Linked DNA regions of Homo sapiens. The protein of the gene in region 2 interacts with the protein of the main gene of each other region in a pairwise test. Each region holds a gene or a part of one and is shown on either strand. Other genes may lie near its edges.

What was found.
Region 1: the proteins of USP54 (region 2) and CHERP interact in binary tests that used the Homo sapiens proteins (3 or more experiments, as listed by UniProt).
Region 3: the proteins of USP54 (region 2) and HNF1B interact in binary tests that used the Homo sapiens proteins (3 or more experiments, as listed by UniProt).
Region 4: the proteins of USP54 (region 2) and EIF4E2 interact in binary tests that used the Homo sapiens proteins (3 or more experiments, as listed by UniProt).

Annotation. Positions count from the first base shown.
Region 1 is NC_000019.10:16,521,938-16,525,437, forward strand, and holds part of CHERP (calcium homeostasis endoplasmic reticulum protein), read right to left. Parts: coding exon 3,305-3,500; intron 1,354-3,304; coding exon 1,115-1,353; intron 1-1,114. UniProt on the Homo sapiens protein: Involved in calcium homeostasis, growth and proliferation.
Region 2 is NC_000010.11:73,584,843-73,588,342, forward strand, and holds part of USP54 (ubiquitin carboxyl-terminal hydrolase 54), read right to left. Parts: intron 1-3,500.
Region 3 is NC_000017.11:37,735,060-37,738,559, forward strand, and holds part of HNF1B (hepatocyte nuclear factor 1-beta), read right to left. Parts: intron 1-3,500. UniProt on the Homo sapiens protein: Transcription factor that binds to the inverted palindrome 5'-GTTAATNATTAAC-3'. Binds to the FPC element in the cAMP regulatory unit of the PLAU gene. Transcriptional activity is increased by coactivator PCBD1.
Region 4 is NC_000002.12:232,557,189-232,560,688, reverse strand, and holds part of EIF4E2 (eukaryotic translation initiation factor 4E type 2), read right to left. Parts: intron 2,806-3,500; coding exon 2,671-2,805; intron 1-2,670. UniProt on the Homo sapiens protein: Recognizes and binds the 7-methylguanosine-containing mRNA cap during an early step in the initiation. Acts as a repressor of translation initiation.

The sequences.
Region 1 (3,500 bases), on a different chromosome or scaffold from region 2:
GAACACCCTCTGGTTTATTCAGACATGCAGCGGGCCCCTCACGTCACCCTTTGCTTGCAATGCCTACCCTGGGCCCCCGCTCAGAACAGCCTCAGCCCCGGCCCTGGAGCCCCCTGGCCTGTATCCTTCTTCTGCTCCGTCTCTGTCCTCCTGTTGAGGCCCTGCCCTGCCTGGCTTGCCTGGGCCCCCGCCCGCAGCTCTCCCTGCTGCCCATGGCTCCGTGAAGTCTGCCTGGACTTCAGGTGGATGTGTCTGAGGGGGTGGGAAGTGGCAGTGGCCAGCATGCCCTTGGAGGCCCCAAGCCCCGGCCCTGGCCTCCCCAACCCCCCCTTTTTTTTTTTGAGACGGAGTCCTGCTCTCGCCCAGGCTGGAGTGTAGTGGCGTGATCTCGGCTCAGTGCAAGCTCCGCCTCCCGGGTTCATGCCATTCTCCTGCCTCAGCCTCCCGAGCAGCTGGGACTACAGGCGTCTGCCACCACGCCTGGCTAATTTTTTGTATTTTTTAATAGAGACGGGGTTTCACCGTGTTAGCCAGGATGGTCTCGATCTCCTGACCTCGTGATCCGCCCGCCTCGGCCTCCCAAAGTGCTGGGATTACAGGTGTGAGCCACTACGCCTGGCCAGACCTGGCCCCTTCTTGCCTCACCTCTTGCCCTATGCTCCGGCCATCCCACAGTGGTACCAGCTGCTGCCAGCCCTGCCCGGCTTCTCCAGGGCCACCCCCCTCCCTGTGTGCTTGGTAGGCACAGCTCACAGGTGGCTCCTTCTAAGACATTCCCTCCATCAGCAGCCCTGGGACAAGGTGCTTCTGAGGCCCTGGACCAAGAAGGACGAAGAGAGGACTCGAGCCTCATAGCCTAGCTAGCCCCACATGGCTGAAGCTCCCTGTGGTGGGAGGGATAGGAGGGGCAGGGCAGGGCAGACATGGTGTCGCTCACAGCCACACCGTGCTACTCCGGTTCGGCACCTCCCACTGACGGATCAGGGTCCCTAGGGAGTGGGAGATGAAGGGGAGCCCCGGAAGGCACCCGGTCCCGTGCATTCACTTTTCACAAGGAGAAACGGGGACCAGTATGGTAAGCGTGCTCAGCTTGGAGCCCACTGTGGGGCATTACCTTCACGAGGGGGGCCATCAGCCCAGCAGGGAGATCGAAGTAGGGCACATTGGGGACCAGGCTGGGGTCATCGTGGTTGATGTGGGGTGGGCCCTGTCGCCGCATGTGTGGGGGCTGCCCGTTGAAGCCATGGGGGGGAGGGCCGAAGTCAGGGTGCTGGGGTCCAGCCCAAGGCGGGTGCTCGTTGATGCCAGGATGAGGCATGCGGTGGCCAGGGTGGTGGTGAGGGGGCCCCATTTCTGCAAAACAGAGACTTGCCTCAGGACCACAGGCCAGTCAGGATCTCCCAGGCGACAAGTGCTGGAGGGGAGGGGCTCAGTGAAGGGCCAGGAGACGAACCCCTCCTGGGAGCCTGTCCAGCATCTTCTCTCACTGCTTAAGACCAGGCAGCAAGGCACCGAGGAGCCAGGCTCCGAGGGGCCTGTCCCGCACCCATAGGCACAGCCGAGGGAGCTTGAGGCTGAGAGAAGAGAACCCCAAAACCCCAAAACTGCACGGTGAGGGCTAAGTTGTGACCCTCCGAATCCATACGCTGAGGTCCCAGCCCCCAGTAGCTCAGGACGGAACTGTATTTGGAGACAGAGCCTTCAAAGACACAAATGAGTTAAAATGAAGCCATAGTGGCCCGAATCCAACGTGACTGTTGCCGTTATAATAAGAGATTAGGACACAGACATGTAGAGAGAAGACGGTCACCTATGAGCCAAGGAGACAGGCCTCCAAGACACTAACCTGAACCCGCCACACCTCCACCTTGGACCTCCAGCCCCCAGATCCTTAAGACAATACATTCCAGCTGTTGAAGCCGTCCAGGCTGTGGGACTTATCATGTCAGCCCAAGCCAAAAAGTAAAAGCAATAAATGTGCCAAGCGGTCTTCAAGCTGCATTTATAATCAGAAATGTATTTAAAGAGAGAAGGCTGGGCATGGTGGCTCACGCCTGTAATCTCAGCACTTTGGGAGGCCAAGGCGGGTAGATCACTTGAGGCCCAGAGTTTGAGACCAGCCTGGCCAACATGGCGAAACCCCATCTACTAAAAATACAAAAATTAGCTGGGCATAGTGACTGATGCCTGTAATCCCAGCTACTGAGGAGGCCAAGGTGGAAGAATCACTTGAACCCAAGAGGAGGCTGCAGTGAGCCGAGACTGTGCCACTGCACTCCAGCCTGCGTGACAGTGAGGCTCAGTCTCAAAAAAACAACAAACAACAACAACAAAAGGCCAAGCGAGGTGGCTCACACCTTTCATCCCGGCACTTTGGGAGGCCGAGGCGGGCGGATCACCTGAGGTCAGGAGTTCGAGACCAGCCTGGGCAACATGGTGAAACCCTGTCTCTACTAAAGACACAAAAAATTAGCCAGGCATGGTGGCGCACACCTGTAATCCCAGCTACTCGGGAGGCTGAGGCAGGAGAATCATCTGAATCTGGGAGGCGGAGGTTGCAGTGAGCTGAGATTGTGCCATTGCACTCCAGCCTGGGCAACAGGGTGAGACTCTGTCTCAAAAAAAAAAAAAAGTACTAAAAGATTAGAAATAAAATCAATAACAAAGATACTAGGCATGGTGGCTCACATCTGTAGACCCAGCTACTCTAGAGGCTGAGGTGGGATGACTGCTTGAGCTCAGGAGTTTGAAAGTAGCCTGGCCAACATAGCAAGACCCCATCTCTATTTAAAATAAAATAAAATTTTTTTAAAAAAGAAAAGTAGTTTTTTGTTTTTTTTTTTTGAGACAGCGGTCTGTCGCCCAGGGTGGAGTACAGTGGTGCGATCACAGCTCACCGCAACCTCAGCCTTCTGAGCAGCTAGGACCATAGGCGCCCGACACCACGCCAAGTATTGATTTTTTAAACGAACTAATACAACGGGAAAACTGATGCAAAAAACAAGCAGCAGCAGTAAAAAGAACGAGGCCCCGCCCTGCCCTCGCCACGCCCACCCACGGCAGGAACCTTTTCCTACTGGCTCTGCCTCATCTGCAGCCAGCCGGGCCTCATCAGGGCGGCAAAACTGAGTCTGTGCCCCCACTTCCTGAGAACCCAGGCCGGGCTCCTCGGACGTCCCATGACCCTGTGTCTGTCACTGTGCACTCAGGAGCATGGCAGGGCCACAAGCAGCGCCACCAGCCTGCTCGGCAGGCGAGCCGTGGATGCCTCCGCCAGGCCCTACCCAGGCGCCCGTACACTCACCGGCAGGGAAGTCCCCCTGGGGGTAGTCGAAGCGGTGGGGATAGGGCGGCCGCTCGAAGGGGTGCCGTGGCGGGAAGTCGTCCTGCATGAAGCGGGGCGGGAAGCGGTTGAAGTTGTGGGGGTGCGGAGGCTGGTTGAACTGCGGGTGCTGCTGGTGGGGCGGGAAGGGCCCCCGGAAGTGTGGGGGCCGCTGCAT
Region 2 (3,500 bases):
AGAGGGCCTGGTGTGGATCTCTATTTCCTTTCATTCTATTTTCACTGCTGCTGCTACTAAGGTTCAGATCCTCACCACATCTGGACCACTGCACCACATTACTGACTCATTGCCAGTCCTCTAATCCTACATGTCACTACCACCTGACTCCTAAAACACATTCCACACCATGTCACTCCTTTTCAAAATATTTAATGGCTCCTAGAGGGAGATATTCTTTTGGCTGGAAAAGAACAATGGTATTTTTCTAATTCACAGGAAAGAAAATTAATAGATGGATTTTTCATAAGTTTCTCTACCATAATTTTTTCTTACCTACTTAGTCTACTGCTAGCACTACAGAAACTTGAACAAATAGTAGCAAAATTAAGAGGGAAAAAAATCAAAGCAGTCAATTGGAACTATTTTAACACCTTTTTTCCTAACTGACAGTGTTAAGCCATGTTTGCACTGCTATAAAGAAATACCCAAGGCTGGGTAATTTATAAAGAAAAGAAGTTAATCAGCTAATGGTTCTGCACTGTGTATGGGAAGCATGGCACCAGCATCTGCTCAGCTTCTGGCAAGGCCTCAGGGAGCTTACGATCATGACAGACCGCAAAGGGAAGCCCAGGTGTCACATGGCGAGAGAGACAAGGGAGAGGTCTCAGGCTCTCTTAAACAACCAGATCTTGTGTGAATTAACTGAGTGAGAACTCACTCATCACTGAGCTATTCATGAGGGATCCACCCCCATGATCTAATACCTTCCACTAGGCCCCAACATTGGGGATCACATTTCAGCATTAGATTTGAGGGAACAAACATCCAAATCATATCACTGAATCATGTTCATGATTGTGATTTTTATGCTGCATATTTTTGATATTCACATATTCTGCCAATAAAATTAATTCCTGGCCAGGCACAGTGGCTCACACCTGTAATCCCAGCATTTTAGGAGGCTGAGGTGGGCAGATCACGAGGTCAAGAGATCAAGATCATCCTGGCCAACATGGTGAAACCCCGTCTCTACTAAAAATACAAAAATTAGCTGGGCGTGGTGGCGCGTGCCTGTAGTCCCAGGAGGCTGAGGCAGGAGAATCTTGAACCCGGGAGGCAGAGGTTGCAGTGAGCCAAGATCGCACCACTGCACTCTAGCCTGGTGACAGAGCAAGACTCCAGCTCAAAGAAAAAAAAAATTAATTCCTAATTATAAGATAGAATTAAATATGTCTGGCACCAGCGTAAAGTTTGAGAATCACCGGACCTTACCACCATTTCCAGCTTCATCTACTCATTCACTCACTGATCAAACATTTCATTGATCATCCATTATGTGCCTCTCACTCATCCTCCACTCCAAGTACACTAGACTCCTTTCTTTATAACAAATATACCCTGTCCTTTACTTTCTCATTGTCTTGACTCTAATATTGCCTCTCTCTGGAATGCCTTTCCTCTCCATTTATTCTTGCTGAAAATCTTAACTATCCTACAAGGAAAAGCCTTCCCAGATCATTCTCTCACCCTCTCACCTTTCCAATCTCCCAATTTATTTCATCCTCCTCTGTGCTCTCAGTGCATGGTGGGGTTTGGATTACAATACTCACATTCTCCCTCATGTTACAGTTATTTGGGTACGTGGACTACATTTTGTCTTAAGGGCATCTTTCTAATTCCACACAGAGGTTGAATATAATAGGCATTGAATCACTGACAGTTTCATTGAAAGAGAAAACTTTTTGTTTGAAGGTACCTAGCCTAGAACAACCAATTCTAACATCCTGATAAATTCTGACTCTCCTTAAAGAAAAGAACTCACAAAATGGCCTTATCTAGCTTGAGATACTGCTGACAACTTTTTCTAATAGTGACTATATAAATGGAAACAATATTTGCTTCTGATTCAAGCTTGAAAATAGAAAGAGATAAGCATCTACAACCATAAAAAGGGCCAAGCTATTTGTTGATTTATGAGCTGGTTATCTTAAACTCTCCAGCGAATAGTTACTCAACTCAAACAATTTCCTGAGGGCTGGACTTTGGCAGCTTCAAACTATTACATCATGTACAACAGAAGAATTGTATGCTGATAAAGGACAAAAAGTCTTATTTTTCCTGCACAAGAACTTAGATAACTGTCATGTATAACAAATTTGTCTAAAATTTGTTAAAAAGTAGTTGGAAAGAAAACAAAAAGGCACGTTTCACTTTGTTATAATTGACAAATTATAAGAACTAAGAAATGACAGCTGCAGGCTACTTAGCCCTTCCTTATAAAGATCTAAAGTTGTATAATTTACTGACTTCTAAAGGAAGCAGCATGGTAGTAGAAAGAACATAGTGGTTAAAAGTATACCCTCTGCAGGCCGGGTGCAGTGGCTCACTCCTGTAATCCCAGCACTTTGGGAGGCTGAGGCAAGTAGATCACAAGGTCAGGAGATCGAGACCATCCTGGCTAACACGGTGAAACCCCGTCTCTACTAAAAAACACAAAAAAATTAGCCGGGTGTGGTGGCGAGCACCTGTGGTCCCAGCTACTCGGGAGGATGAGGCAGGAGAATGGCGTGAACCTGGGAGGCGGAGCTTGCAGTGAGCCGAGACTGCGCCACTGCACTCCAGCCTGGGCAACAGAGCGAGACTCCATCTCAAAAAAAACAAAAAGTGCACCCTCTGCAGGGCCAACAATATTGCAGAACCTCGGGAGGTAACATGCTTTTAGTGGAGATCCAAAGGGTCCCATTCCTAGAGAACATTATGTGAATTATACAACTTGGGGACACAGAGTTAGTGGAATAGAACAGGTCTCAGCTCCACCATCTAACAGCTGTGGCATATTGACCAAGTTATTGAACTAACTCTTAGGTACTTCATCAGAAAAAATGTGACTAATAATAACATCTATCTCATAGGATTGTTATAAGAATTAAATAAAATAATGTAGATACGTATAATTAGCCCAGTGCCTAATATGTGGTAAGTGTGGAATAAATGTTTTGATGATGATTATGGTGAGGATAATGATGATGAAGAATAAGATGAATCTACATTCCAATCCTAGCTCCATCACATTCAGGCCATTTACTACCTATAATAAATGTGATCTGCTGAAAGGATGCAACAAAATAATGTACGCAGAATACTTAGGGCCAGGTACAAAACAGGAATTCCATAAAGAGTAACTGTGATTATGATGACTGACCATCCTCTATATGCATTATCTCTCCCCCATCTCTCTTTCTCTTACAGGCAAACACACACACACATATAACTACTATAAAAATTTCAGGAGATTAAACTATAATTGATAGCATAAATCCCAAGGCCATATAAAAAATGGGGAAAAGTGTATCCTTTTTTTTTTCTTAAATGTATCCTTTGTTGTTGTTGTTTTTTGTTTTTGTTTTTGTTTTTTGAGACGGAGTCTCGCAGTCACCCAGGCTGGAGTACAGTGGCGTGATCTTGGCTCACCGCAACCTCCGCCTCGCAGACTCAAGCAATTCTCCTGTCTCAGCCTC
Region 3 (3,500 bases), on a different chromosome or scaffold from region 2:
GATTACAGGTGTGAGCCACCGTGCCCGACCTTGATGACTTTCTTTCTCAGTTCCTGTAATTACTCCCACAGGTCACAGAAAGTGGAAGGCTACCACCTCCCTTTGTGATGTAAATGATGTGCCATCATTTACATGCCATCCTTCCTGTTCCTTTGGACAACTGGATCCAAAATCCTCAAGGTTCAAGTCAGGCTACTACTTAACGTTTGAATCCCCTCTACAACCCCACACCAAGTGGCCCTCCAGGCTATATGCCTCCAGCAGCAGGGAACTTACCACCTGTCTTAGGCTCATTTCCATTTTGCTCCATCGGGAGGAATGGTTAGGGCCCCTAGCCCGCCAAGACTTGCAATCCCAACTGCAGGTGGTGTTGGGCTTTGTTTAACTGTGGACTGATGGTGTCACTGGGGCCTTTGATTTCGGCCCATTCACCTTGGAGGATTCTTAGGCCACCTTAGGGCTCTGTTTTCAGTGGTGCCCAACAATGCCACTATAGACCTGAGAGAGTCCCTGTCAAATGTACTAGCAGGAAGTCACTGCTAGTGGGATCATGTGGGGCCCCAGCTTAATTCCCTCATCATTTAGTCTCCCCAGCTGTGGAATGAGACTGACTGAAAGCTTAGGGACACTAACTAGTCTTTTAGAATATCTACCCCTAGTCAGGATGATAGTGATGTTGGCCCAAATTCCTTTGGGGGTTATACTTTTTCTTTTTTTCAAACAAGGTCTTGCTCTGTGACCCAGGCTGGAATGCAGTAGTACGATCATAGCTCACTGCAGCCTTGACCTCCTGGGCTCAAGCCATCCTCTCGCCTTAGCCTCCCAAGTAGCTGGGACTACGGATGTGCAGGCCACCACATCTGACTAATTAAAAAAAATTATTTTTGTAGAGACGGGGTCTCGCTATGTTGCCCAAGCTGGTCTCAGACTCCTGGCCTCAAGCAGTCTTCCCGCCACCTCAGCCTCCCAAAGCATTGGGGTTACAGGCGTGAGCCACCATGCCCCACCTGATTATACTTTTCAAAGTGCTTTAGCCCCTCTATGGTATTTGACTTCACAGCAGCTCTCTAAATGCAGTTACTTGAGGGGAAATCCAAGGGGGAGAAGGAGATGTCCCCTGCTCAGTGAGGTCTGTCACAGTGTCTTCCCTCCTCCCCGTGGGCCCTGTGTGGCACCAGTAGAGTCACCAATGGCGAAAGCCAGTGTGGATCATCCCAAGGGCCTGGGAGCAATGTGAGATTTTTTCATTTGATGTGAACAGACACAATAACGGTTCACATTTATTGAACCTTTTCTGTGGTGAGGTATTGTGCCAAATCCTCTAAATATATTCCTTCATCTAATTCTTACGACCGCTCCATGTGAGAAGTACAGCCACCTCCATTTTACAGATGAAGAAACTGAGGTTCAGACTGGTGAAGTGACTTGTCCAAAGTCATGTGGACTTGGGGCAGGAGCCTGGACACGAGCCCAGCCTGCAGGCTTGCAGGCTCCTAACTACCAGCCTGTGCATCACCTCTCACTAAAAACAAAACCCAAGCCACGTACCCCGCAAACGCTTCATATCTGACTTGTGTGGAGGTGACAAAACCGATTCCTGAAGCTTTGTGTCTGGTGGGTGTGAGACACTCTCGCAGCTGCTCCCCAGTGTGAGGGCTGCCTCAGTCTCTCACCTGCCCTTTGAGGAGGTAGCAGGCTGAACAGTGTTCAGAACTCAGTGTGTCCTCAAATCAGCCAGGTGGGTTTGCCTGTAGGTGCTCAGAACCATTCGGGTTCCACTGACATCAGGGGCTTGGCTCTAGCCTCTCCCAATTTTTGAAGAACTAGACTCCCACATTTGCTCCCTCTAGCCACCAACAACTCTTCTCTACTTCCCTTCAGATTAATTGGGGTTGGGGAAGAAAATGTTCATTGCCCATGAAAATTATCTTGGAGAAGTTGGCTTCAGTAGCCTCTTTATAGGCTTGGGGGCTGCTTGGACAAGGAGGTTCTGTGTGTGTAGAGGGGCCCATGAATATTACCATTTGTTATTTTTAGTTTTTCCAGGAAATTTGTAATCATGTATCATTTTTTATTCTCTCCCCTCTTCCTCCTTCTCCTCACCCCATTCACTTGTGTCCCTCTTTTATTTCTCTTACTTCCTAATTCTTATATCATGCTTGCATGTCTTACATTCATCCTTCAAGACATGATTTGAATGTCACCTCTTCTAGGAAGCCTCCCATGATGTCTCCAGGCAATTTAGCAATTCCTCTGCTGCCCCTTGTGTATATCTTTATAACAGCTCTTAGAAAGTGAATGTCATTATTTACTCAAACATCTCCACTTCTTCACTGGATGGCAGGTAAGTCCCTGGAGAAAAGAACCTATGTATTCCATAGCTTAGCGTAGTGTTTGGCACATAGTAGGTGCCTGTATAATAGTTACAGAAGGAAGGAATGTTTCTTAAGCTTTTATGTCTCGTGTGACTTTAAAACAAAAATAACAACTGGGTGCGGTGGCTCACCCCTGTAATCCCAGCACTTTGGGAGGCTGAGGCGGCGGATCACGAGGTCAGGAGATCAAGACCAGCCTGGCCAACATAGTGAAACCCCGTCTCTACTAAAAATACCAAAAAAAAAAAAAATTAGCCAGGTGTGGTGGCGGGCACCTGCAGTCCCAGCTACTTGGGAGGCTGAAGCAGGAGAATGGCGTGAACCCGGGAGGCGGAGCTTGCAGTGAGCCAAGATCGCGCCACTGCACTCCAGTCTGGGTGGCAGAGCGAGACCCCGTCTCAAAAAGTTAAATAAATAAATAAATAAATAAAACAAAAATAACAATAACAACAATCTCTTGAAGAGGCTGTTGTATTTGTAAAACGTCCCTTCCTCAGCATCTTGAGAAACTTTCTGGACCTCTGTCTTTTGAGAAGTTTCCAGTCTGCCTTTCCTGCCTCCTTCTCCTTTCTGAAGAAATTCTCATTGAATACAGAGAGGCAGCACAGACTGGAAATGCTGCATAAAGCTTAAATTGGGCAGGGCCCAAGCGTTGTTGGGTCTTTGGAGACAATGGCTCCTGAGAATTTTTTTAGGCTTTCCAGGAACTACAGAGAGTTGCTTCATGTCAGGAACACAAATTCTTAAAGAGCTAGTCACCAAGTATGGGGGGCCAACCCATTCTTGGAAAGGTCTCTCGCTCTAAGCAGCAAACAGCTCTCATGTTGCTTCTTCCAATCTATTCATGTAATGCTCCCAACAAAAGCACAAACACCACAATATGAAATGAACACCTAAAACCATTCCTTTCACCAGCCCAGGGACATTGAGACAATAAATACTGAAACAATCACTTCAGAGCAGTGTGTAACAGAAGACAAGAGTCATTTTAAAAAGCAACAGGGAAAAAACCCAACCCAGAAACCCAGATAGTGGTGGAAATTAACATCTTGATAAAGACAGAGAAGCCTAGATAAAGCCAGAGGATAGTGTGTGGGGAGAGTGAAAACCGATACAAATTTTCCA
Region 4 (3,500 bases), on a different chromosome or scaffold from region 2:
CATTTTGTAGGCTATCTTTTCACTTTCTTGATAGCGTCCTTTGAAGCAGAAAAGTTTTGAATTTTGATGAAATCCTATACAGATGGGGTCTCACTATGTTGCCCAGGCTGGTCTCAAACTCTTGAGATCAAGTCATCCTCCTGCCTTGGCCTCCCAAAGTACAAGGATTACAGGCGTGAGCCACCACGCCCAGCCAAGTATTTAATCTTTTGCTGCTTGTGCGTTTAGTGTGTTACTTAAGAAGGCTTTGCCTAACCTAAGGTCATTAGGATTTACTAATATTTTCTTCTAAGAATTTTATAATTTTAGCTCTTACATTTAGGTCTATGATCCATTTTTAGTTACTTTTTGTGTATGGTGTCAGGAAGGAATGCAAATTCATTCTTCTGCACCTGGAAATCCAGTTGTCTCAGCAATGTTTGTTGAAAAGACGATTCTTTCCCCGGTTATTGTCTTGGTACCTTACATTACTGGTTTATTATAAACAAAGGATACGATGAAGAGATGCGTAGGGCAAGGTATGGGGGAAGGTATGGAGGAAGGTTCAGGGAGCTTCTATGTCCCCTCTAGGCGCACCACCCTCCAGGCACCTCCATGTGTTCAGCTATCTGGAAGCTTCTGTACCTGAGTTTCAATTATACTGGCTCCTCGACTTAATCCAGTGAATTATGACTGACTCGAGAATTTAAAAATTTTTTTAGACAGGATCTATCTCTGTTGCCCAGGCTAGAGTGCAGTGGCACAAAAAAGGCTCACTGTAGTCTTAACCTCCTAGGCTCAACTGATCCTCCTGCCTCAGCCTCCTGAGTAGTTGGGACCACAGGTGCATGCCAACATGGCCAGCCTTTTTTTTTTTTTTTTTTTAATGCTCCCGTTTTCTCCAAGCCAGCTAATTTTAAACTTTTTTTGTAGAGGCAGGGTCTCATCACGTTGCCTAGGCTGGTCTCAAACTCCTGGGCTCAAACAATCTTCCCACCTCAGCCTCCCCAAGTGGTGGGATTACAGGCATGAGCCACCGTGCCCCACCATAACTTGAGACTTTAGATCAGACACTTAACCCAAGTTTTACTTTCCTCATTTGTAAAACATGGATAATATCACTGACCTCATAGGGCTATCATAATGTTGGAAGGAAATTATACAAATAAAGTATGTATTATATGTCCTTCCTCCTTAGCAGTTTGTTGTAGTATTTCCTACTGGAGTATTCTTTTCTAGTTTCTGCATTTTATTTTATTTTTTTATTTTTTTCAAACCAAAGCACTTTAAAAAAAAGTAATATGCAAGACTGTTGGAGAAAACCGTGATTGTTACTGAACAGATGAGACACTTTGAGAAAAGATAAACAATTATTCATTTTTGTTTAAGACATCAGGAGTACTAATAAAGAACCAACTGGTAAACTGCTGATAATTCCATATAATATATCTAGCATACAACTACACTGAATCATTCTTTTTTTTTTTTTTATACTTTAAGTTTTAGGGTACATGTGCACATTGTGCAGGTTAGTTACATATGTATACATGTGCCATGCTGGTGCGCTGCACCCACTAACTCGTCATCTAGCATTAGGTATATCTCCCAATGCTATCCCTCCCCGCTCCCCCGTAGTTTCTGCATTTTAAACAGGACTAATACTTCACCAATTTCAAGAAAATGACAAACCCCACATTTGATTCTGCCCAGAGATTGAATGTACAGCACACACTGGGTACATAATAACCTTTGTTCAACTAGAGTGGTGTTAGTTGCAGATGGATTCTTGGGGTACACAAACCAAGTCACCTGGGAGAGAGATGAGACAGTCTGGGCTCTCTGACTGCCAGTACCCACAAAAGCAATTATTAGAGATTTCATTTTCTTTCTGAACACAGGAAAAAGATATTTTATGCATAATCATTAATACAGCCAAAACCCTAATGGGAGGTTCTTAAATACAAAACTTTCAAAATTTTTCACTTTACTGTCAAACTTCATGAAGATAGACACCATGTATTATAAACTTCTGTATCCATGACACTTTGAACTTAGTAAGGACTCCATAAATATATACTTAAAAAAAAAAACAAACAAGCAAACAAAACAAACAAAAAAAAAAACAGGGCCAGGTGCAGCGGCTCACTCCTGTAATCCAGCCTTTTGGGAGGCCAAGGCGGGTGGATTACCTAAGGTCAGGAGTTCCAGACCAGCCTGGCCAACATGGTGGAACCCCGTTTCTACTAAAAATACAAAAATTAGCTGGGCGTGGTGGCACATGCCTGTAATCTCAGCTACTTGGGAGGCTGAGGCAGAAGAATTGCTTGAACCCAGGAAGCGGAGGTTGCAATGAGCTGAGATGATACCACTGCATTCCAGCCTGGGAGACAGAGCAAGAGACTCTGTCTCAATTAAAAAATAAAAATAAAAATAAAAAAACCCAAATCTGTTCTTTTGTATTATGCCCTTCTGATCAACTCTACAATTCTCATATTTGTTGATACCTACATGCTAACCATGGATATCTAGTGAGAAACCTAAGAATGAACAAATCTGACTCCGGAGACTCAGGTCAGTCAATTAAGAAAACCAGAATCTTAAATAGGTTACTAGGAAAGTAAATAAACATCATATCAATACAGGCATGAACGAACTATCAAGGCACACTCCATTAATTCACCAAGAACTCACAGAGGCAAAGGTGCCAATCTGTTTGATATTCTGTTCATAGCTCTGTGAGCTCGTGGGACGGCCGGGGGTTCTCCTGGAGTACCAAAAAGTGTAGTTGTACTGCAGGGGATGCTCTGCCGGTCCAGGGACAACAGCCTGGGAAGTAAAGAAGGTGTGTTAGTCCTGGGCATTTGTCACGTGGTCTGAGACTGAGAGAACATTTTGCAGTGTCAATCCTTACCACCTCCACAATTAAAAAAGGATATACAACCTCAACTATCTGCAATGTGCCAAAGATTCTGCTTACACAGTACATTTCCTCAGTGGTTAACTGATTCTAAATTCCTGAAACACTTTACCTGTGTTCTTATGGCCTTTGTAACTTTCTCCCTCATATAATAGGTATTCATCTTTGTATCTTATCTCAGCATATGCCCAGTCCAAGCACTGCCTCCTCTATGAGATTCATCACTGTCAAGTTACTTAACCTGTTTGTGCCTCATCTTCTTACCTGCAAAATGAGGAAAATTGTAACAACCATCTCACAATACTGCTGAGAGGATCAAATGAATCAGTGGATATACAATGCTGAGCACAGTGCCTGGCACAGAGTACGTGCACAACAGATGTCAGTATTATTATTGGTACTATTAAACGTAAGCCCCTTCCACAGTCTCATTCACCTTTGTGTCCTCTTAGCATCTAGCATAAAATGCTAGTAACCCTTGGAGGGTTACTCAATATTGTAGAATAAATGAATTAGTGATTGCTTTGATATTTCTTTGTTTGTTTTTTTGAAACGGAGTCTCACTCTGTTGCCAGGCTGGAGTGCAGTGGCGCGACCTCGGCTC